2 linked regions of the Homo sapiens genome follow. The protein of the gene in region 2 interacts with the protein of the main gene of each other region in a pairwise test. Each region holds a gene or a part of one and is shown on either strand. Other genes may lie near its edges. The genes, in order: F2RL1 and SLC39A13.

Evidence for each region.
Region 1: the proteins of SLC39A13 (region 2) and F2RL1 interact in a two-hybrid assay, tested with the Homo sapiens proteins (one large-scale study listed by BioGRID and IntAct).

The regions. Positions count from the first base shown.
Region 1 is NC_000005.10:76,832,288-76,835,988, reverse strand, and holds the end of F2RL1 (proteinase-activated receptor 2 preproprotein), read right to left. Parts: intron 3,300-3,701; coding exon 2,188-3,299; 3' UTR 674-2,187; downstream 1-673. UniProt on the Homo sapiens protein: Receptor for trypsin and trypsin-like enzymes coupled to G proteins.
Region 2 is NC_000011.10:47,407,166-47,411,560, forward strand, and holds the start of SLC39A13 (zinc transporter ZIP13 isoform a precursor), read left to right. Parts: upstream 1-1,424; 5' UTR 1,425-1,497; intron 1,498-1,786; exon of another isoform or gene 1,787-2,117; intron 2,118-2,419; exon of another isoform or gene 2,420-2,461; coding exon of another isoform or gene 2,462-2,498; intron 2,499-2,900; exon of another isoform or gene 2,901-2,921; coding exon of another isoform or gene 2,922-2,929; coding exon 2,930-3,230; intron 3,231-4,395. UniProt on the Homo sapiens protein: Functions as a zinc transporter transporting Zn(2+) from the Golgi apparatus to the cytosol and thus influences the zinc level at least in areas of the cytosol. May regulate beige adipocyte differentiation.

The sequences.
Region 1 (3,701 bases), on a different chromosome or scaffold from region 2:
CCAAGGCTGCATGACCAAATGGAATCTTGAAGAGAACACCTAGATAACAGAGGACCTGTCAGCGACTCTGGACTTCTGGGTGCAGCACTGTTTTAAAAGTCAAAAAAAGAAGGGTGGGGGGATGACAACCTAAGGAGCCGTTGGTAGGGAATTAATTAAATACATCACAATATACCCAAAATGTTAAATAGCCTGTATCCTTGAAAAGCGGTCAACCTACAGATGCAGGTATAGAAAGAATTCTAAAACTTTTTTTTTTTTTTTGAGACGGAGTTTCGCTCCTGTTGCCCAGGCTGGAGTGCAATGGCGCAATCTCGGCTCACCGTAACCTCCACCTCCCGGGTTCACGCGATTCTCCTGCCTCAGCCTCCCGAGTAGCTGGGATTACAGGCGTCTGCCACCACGCCCAGCTAATTTTCGTATTTTTAATAGAGACAGGCTCTTGCCATGTTGGCCAGGCTGGTCTTGAACTCCTGACCTCGGGTGATCCACCCACCTTGGCCTCCCAAAGTGCTGGGATTACACACGTGTGCCACTGTGCCCGGCCTCTGAAACATTTTTAAATGAAAAACCGTTGTCACAGAGTTTGGTGTGAGTGTCCACTTTTAGAGGGGTGAAGCTGTTGCCTGCCTTCTCTCACTCCTTCCCTCAAAACAAACGCACAACTCAGAAATAAGTTGTAAAAAAAATTTTGTTATTTATAAATCAATTACACAATAAAATAATTATTTTTAAAAGTCACAAATACAATCGTTGTATAAAGTCATTTTGGCATCAAGTATCTCTTAAATATGTTGCAAACTATTTTCCAAAGAGATGTGGTCCAAACCCTCTGAAGGCTTTATAATTTTGTATTAGATAACAAGTGAACAAAACTGACAATAAATACTCCAACAATTATTTTTTAAAATACTAAGTGGCAAATGCTATTCTAAGTGGCAAAACAATCTATTACTCAGACTACCTGAAAATTTCACTGAAGTCATCAAAAGTTATACAAAATTTGTATTTACATGTTTAAAATCCTGATTGCATTTTTCTTTAATAATAATACATACAAAAACTCAGAGGGTTAATAAAGAAATAATTCAAAGTCCTAATAAGTCAACAAACAGATTTCATTATAAGCTGAACATAAAAGAGACACCATTGTTTGCTTCTCTTTTCAAAAATTATCACGGCACTTTGTCAAATGGAAGCAGCATTCAGAACAATGGTTCTCAAATCTCTGTGTGCATAAACACCATGCAGGTTTGTACCACACAGATTCCTGGGCCCTGTTCCCAGTCTGAGCTCTCATTATTGAATCTGAGGAATCTGCATTTTGAACAAGATTCACGACTATTTTATTTTATTTTATCACCCAAGCTGGAGTGCAGTGGTGCAATCTCGGCTCACTGCAACCTCTGCCTCCTGAGTTAAAGTGATACTCAATTCTTGTGCCTCAGCCTCCTGAGTAACTGGGATTACAAACGTGCACCACACACCTGGTTAACTTTTGTATTTTTAGTAGAGATGAGGTTTCGCCATGATGGCCAGGCTGGTCTCGAACTCCTGACCTCAAGTGATTGCCTGCCTCAGCCTCCCAAAGTGCTAGGATTACAGGCATGAGGCACCGCACCCAGCCAAGATCCATGATTTTGATGAAGTGGTACAAGAACCTCACTCACTGGACATTGAAATTCTACTGTCCAATCCCAACTCACTGCTGTTGATTGGAAACCTGATTCTGGCAGCTCATTTATCTTGGTTTCCTCATTTGTAAGGTCGTTCAGTTGGACTGATCATCTCTGAGGGCCTTGAAGCCCTAACAAGTCTATCATGATCCCAGATGTAAAATATATATATGTGTATATATATAATTTCAGCTGAGAAGTGAGTCTTCACACCAAGTCTACTTTTTGCAAGTTACTGGGTTTCTGTCTTCACCATCTTCTGAAAAGTCTGCTTCTGTTGGTTCAGTTTCTGGGGTCATCTGAGTAGAGAGATTCTGAAACAGACACTGATGTTAATTTGGGGGACTACTTTTCTCATGCAAACAGGGGAGCTCCTAGCAATCCTGAGAGGTGCTGCATCCACATGGTATGTGGTGAGACCTTTTTGATTAGGAAATAACAGACACGTCCTCATAACATTAAACAGGTTCCACATCCTACTGTGCAATTCCCATCTGAGGACCTGGAAAACTCAATAGGAGGTCTTAACAGTGGTTGAACTTGAAGAGTAAGAGCTGGATTTCCTGGAGTGTTTCTTTGAGGTGAGGGATACTTGCATCTGCTTTACAGTGCGGACACTTCGGCAAAGGAGAGCGTTCTTTGCATGATCCCTGAAATCATGTGAAACAAAGTAATAGACAAAGGGGTCGATGCAGCTGTTAAGGGTAGAGAGGCAGAGGGCTACAATGTACAGGGCATAGACATGGCTCTGGCCCTGGCTCTTAATCAGAAAATAATGCACCACAAGCAGAAGGTTACTAGGAGTGAAGCAGATCAGGTACATGGCCAGGACAGTGACAATGAGTTTGATGGCCCTCTTCCTTTTCTTCTCTGAGTTTTCATCCATGGCAGAAGATCGCAGCATTCTGATCATCAGCACATAGGCAGAGGCTGTGAGGAAGGCTGGGAACAGAAAGACCCCAATGGCCAGAGAGAGGAAGTAATTGAACATGTCTCCCACCAAGAGCTGCTCAGGCAAAACATCATGACAGGTCGTGATGTTCAGGGCAGGAATGAAGATGGTCTGCTTCACGACATACAAAGGAATGGTGACCAGCAGAATCAGCAGCCATATTGCCAGGGAGATGCCAATGGCAATGTTTGCCTTCTTCCTGGAGTGCCCCATGGGGTTCACGATGACCCAATACCTCTGCACACTGAGGCAGGTCATGAAGAGAATGGAACAGTACATGTTGCCATAGAAAAAGCCAATAAGCACATTACAAAGAGCTTCCCCATAAATCCAGTTGTTGCCATGTATGTGATAGGCAATCTTCAAGGGGAACCAGATGACAGAGAGGAGGTCAGCCAAGGCCAGATTGGCCATGTAAATCACAGCAGGGTGCTTCTTCTTAGTTCGGAAAAGAAAGACCCACAGGGCCATGCCGTTACTTGGCAAACCCACCACAAACACAATTGTGTAGACAATTGGAAGGAAGACAGTGGTCAGTTTTCCAGTGAGGACAGATGCAGAAAACTCATCCACAGAAAAGACTGTTTCAACTGTAACTCCTTTTCCAGTGACGTGGGATGTGCCATCAACCTTACCAATAAGGCTTCTTCCTTTAGAGGATCTACTGGTTCCTGTACAAGAAAGGAAGACAAGGGTCATTACAGAAATAAATGTTTCAGCAGTAACACTGGTTTGTTCAAATGAAAGTACATTCATTTATTCATTTTTTAATTTATGAGACAGGGTCTCGCTGTCACCCAGGCTGGAGCGTAGTGGAGCGATCATAATGCACCGCAGCCTCAAACTTTTGGGCTCAAGCAATCCTCCTAAACAGCCAGGCCACAGGCACACACCATCACACCCAGCTAATTTTTTACTTTTTGTAGAGATAGGATCTCACTATGTTGCCCAGGCTGTTCTCAAACTCCTGGCCTTAAGATTCTCCTGCCTCAGCCTCCCAAAGTGGTGAGATACAAGTGTGAGCCACTGAGCCCAGCCTCAAATGAAAGTACTTTAGATGAAAACAGAAATGT
Region 2 (4,395 bases):
GCATTTTAGAAGTCCTAGGGCAGGATCCCTGAGTAGCTTTTCTTTGCCAAGAAACTAACCCAGGGATTCCATTTTGGAACTCAGGGAGGGAACAGAACGTCCTGGCAGTTGTATGGGCCCGGTGGGGTGAGATGGACAGAAAGCTTCAGAAGACAAGCTGGGCCACCAGGGAGAAGTTGGCGGTCTAAGGAAGGCCAACAGTGCAACATGAAGTGGGACAGGCACCAGAGGCAGCCCTGAGAGCTGAGTGTGCTCTCAAGAGCCCCAGCAGAGGGGAAAGTGACAGAGTAAATGGTTGGAGCTGCCATGGGAGGCTGATGAGGGTCAGAGACTTAAGAGACCTGTACTCAGTCGCTATCTCTGCCCAAGTGAGTACCCACATGCCCCTTCCTGAATCTTCTCCTGTACTGGCTGATTTCCAGAGAAGAATACAAACTCGAAACGCCAAGCCAGACTCCCACTGCTGTTCAGGACCTAGACGTGAGAAGTGGTATCACATACTCTGGCTTCAGGACACCCAGGTTTGAATCCTGGCTCTGCCATCTGTGCCACTGTGTGACCCTGGGCTAACAGTACCCACCACAATGGGATAATATGAGGATTCAGTGAGATAGTGCGAGTAAAGTGAATAGCACATAGTAGGTGGTCAGTAAATTGCGGTTATAAGAACTGCTATCCAGTGTTTGCTGCCTTAGTCTAACCAAAGAGGTCAGGTCTAGCTTCCTCCAGGTGAGGGAAGCACAGAGCCCTCGCCTCCCAGGTTTGGAGTTCCCATCAGCAGGGTCCAGCCACCATGCATTGGACCCCAAAGGGTTACAAGCCCTGGAGACAGTGGCCTGAGGTTCCCAGTGAAAAACCAAAGCATAAAAATAATTCGATGAGTAAGAATAAAATTCCCTCTTCTGAGGTTCCCGGGGCCAGGCCCCTCCCTGCGGCAGGCACTTCCCCTTTCCCTTGCTCATGGAGGAGCCAGGCCGGGCTGACTCAGAGCAGGAGCGCACAGTAGTCCTCCCAGCCCGACCTGGGCGGCGTGGTCTGGCGGCCGGGCGCGCCCCCGTGCGGCCACGGGCAGACTGCGGCCCTGGACGGGAAGCGGCGGCCAGATCCGCAAGCCCCGCAGCCTGGTCGATCGCGGTCCCCGCAGAGCCGCCGCTTCCGTCCCTGCCCAGCCTGGCTGAGCGCGGTGCGTGTGGCTCTCTCACTTCCGACCGACCCTCCCCTCCGGCCCGCAGCCCTGCCCAAACGGAAGTGCGCCCTCTACCCGGGTCCCCCACCGCCGCGAGGCGGAAGCGCCCTCCCGCCGCCACTCCCCCCGACCCCGCGGCACGCGGCGCCTCGGGTTCCGGACAGGCCCCTTGTGACGTGGCCGCGCGCCGGGGGCGGCCCCGGGCCGGGGGCCGGGCGGCCGGGCGGCCGGGCGGGGCAGAGCCTGGGCGGGGCGCGGCACCGCAGCTGGATGGCTGGGGCCGCCCGGATCGCCGCCGCCGCCGCCGCACGGTGAGTGCCAGCAGGACCCTCGGGGCCCGCGCCCCGGGCGTGATGGACCCGGCCGATCCCTCGCCCCGTCCGACTGGTCCTCATCAGACCTGGGCCGGCTCCCAGGACCCGGGAGTCAGGCTCGCCCGCTTCGGCCTCCTCTCCCCCATCGCTCCGCGCCCCACGCCCCATCCCTCCCTCGCTGTCCTCTCCGCGTCCCACCCGCCTCTCTCTAGCTCTCTCACTCTCTACTTTCCTCTCCCCTTGGACTCTCCGTGTATTCCCTCCCGCTAGCCTGTGGTCCCCTCACCTCTGCGTGACCGCCTCGTCCTGGCCCAGTCTTGCCTGTGGTCCCCAGTGGAGCCCCGCTGGCTTCATCAGTGCCCCTGATTAGTTAAGGCCTGGAGGTCCTAGACATGGGCATCTCTGCCACCACCCAGAGGCAGCTGCTTTCTTCCCCTCCCATCTCCATCAGAAGGTGAGGAAACTGAGGCAGGGACATCACCAGCTCAAGGTCACAGCCAGCCTGAGGCAGAGCAGACCACATTTAAACCTCATGCCCGAGTTTCCAGATGGAACTTCTCGCTTGGTTGACTCACGTCCACATCCTGTGATCGGCCGGCTGGGCACATTCCTGCTGCAGGGAGCCCCAGGCCTTCCCTGGCACAGGCAGGGCCTCTGCGCCTCCTCATGCCGGGTACATCCACCTGCACTTTCAGGCTTATCTCGTCCTCACAGCTGAGGCAGGTGATATTGATCCCTGTCCTGCAGATGAGGGCACTGAGGCTCAGAGGGGGGGCTTCAGAGATTTGCCCAGAGTTAGACAGCTCAAAGTGCAGCATAGAATTCACCGTGGGGGCTCTAAAGCCTGCGCTATACAAGAGAGAGGCATCCCCTGGCTAAAGGCTCCTTCCTCATCAGCCCCATCTCCTGTTGCCCTCAGTGCCCTGGGGACATTGGTCTCATGTCCTAGGAAGAAGCGTGGATGGTCTTGCCCTGGCTCATCTGCTCAGTTTCCCCACGTATGTCTCTCTGAATCCACCCCATCCCCTTAGAAGGGGTGCCTCAGTCTCTGGGGTGTCGCGGGCGGCAGGGCCTCCCCTGGCAGCCAGAGACACCCAGCTGGGCCGGGCCGTGCCGCCGGTGGCTGAGGAGAGCCAGCCAGCGCCTCACCCTGTCATTAGGGAAAGTTTAGCCTCAGGCGGAGGTGCTGACACAGTCTGGAGCTGCTCAGAAGGAAAAAATACGCAGTGCTCAGGAGTAGGGTGTGGAGACACAGGGCCCCATTGCTGTGCACCCAGCATTTGGATGCTCAGACGCTCTGGCAAGGACAGCAGGAGGGTGGATGCCAGGGTCCCTTGCGGGGAGGAGGGAGGCGCCACGTTTCCTAAGCAGGTGTGCGGCCAAGGCTGTAGCTCATATAGGTGGCCTTTTGTGTTTTTCAGTACGTGGCATGCCTGGATGTCCCTGCCCTGGCTGTGGCATGGCGGGCCCAAGGCTCCTCTTCCTCACTGCCCTTGCCCTGGAGCTCTTGGAAAGGGCTGGGGGTTCCCAGCCGGCCCTCCGGAGCCGGGGGACTGCGACGGCCTGTCGCCTGGACAACAAGGAAAGCGAGTCCTGGGGGGCTCTGCTGAGCGGAGAGCGGCTGGACACCTGGATCTGCTCCCTCCTGGGTTCCCTCATGGTGGGGCTCAGTGGGGTCTTCCCGTTGCTTGTCATTCCCCTAGAGATGGGGACCATGCTGCGCTCAGAAGGTAGGTGACTCTCCGGTGGCGCCCAGGGCTGGCCAGGGTGTGGGAAGCATGCTGCTGCTCTTCTTAGGAGACCCCAGGTCACAGAGTGTCTGAGATGGAGGGAGAGGATAGAATAGAACTTCTCCCCTTGGTCCTGTAGGAGCTATCTAGCCAGGGGCGGCTGGCTCTGGCTTCCCCAGGAAGCTATGAGCACCTGGTAGCAGGGCCTGCCCCTGGGGAGGGGGTCTAGGAGATGGGGATGTGGGCACGGGTGGGAGCTTTGTCCTGACTACCCTTTTGTACCATGAGCATGTACTGCCCGTTCACAAATAACATGTTGTAACAAAACACGCAGGAGAGCTCTAGGGAGCTGCTAAGAATGCACGTGCCTATCCCCCACCTAAGAGGGGTGGACCAAGGCCCTGGGAATCTGTTAGAAACGAGCATCCCAGGGGCTGGTGCTGCCAGCTGGATGCTCAGGAACCATTCACTTACCAGATGGTTACCCAGCAGCTCTGTGCCAGGCACTGGGCTGAGGGCGGTGCCACAGCTGTGAATAGAGCCCTGCTTGGGCCATGGTCAGGCCTGTGCTCAACCCTCAGAGCAGCCCTGCGGGGTCAGTGCAGGGAGCACCTGGATTATTAGTTCCATTTTACAAGTGGGGATGCACAGGCACAGAGAGGTTCTTTGACCAGTCCAAGGTCACCCAGCCAGGAAATAGCAGTTTCCCCTGGGATCCCACCCCAAACCCAGCTGCCTCTGTCCTCTAGGCCTCAGTTTCTCTATCAAGCCAAAGGGTTGGACATGGCTTTCAGGCAGGCGACTTCCAACCCTGGATGCTGCAAGTCCCCAAATCTCTGCCACTTTTCTGAGAGTGACAGCAGCTGAGAAGAGAAAAATTCCCACGTAATGAGCACTTGCTGTACATATTGTCATTTAATTCCCATAAGAGCCCATAAAAGGCTCACAGCTGTAATCTCAGCAGTTTGGGAGGCTGAGGTGGGCAGATCACCTGAGGTCAGGAGTTCGAGACCAGCCTGGCCAACATGATGAAACCCCGTCTCTACCAAAAATACAAAAATTAGCCGGATGTGGTGGCACACACCTGTAATCCCAGCTACTCAGGAGGCTGAGGCAGGAGAGTCGCTTGAACCTGGGAGATGGAGGTTGCAGTGAACCAAGATCA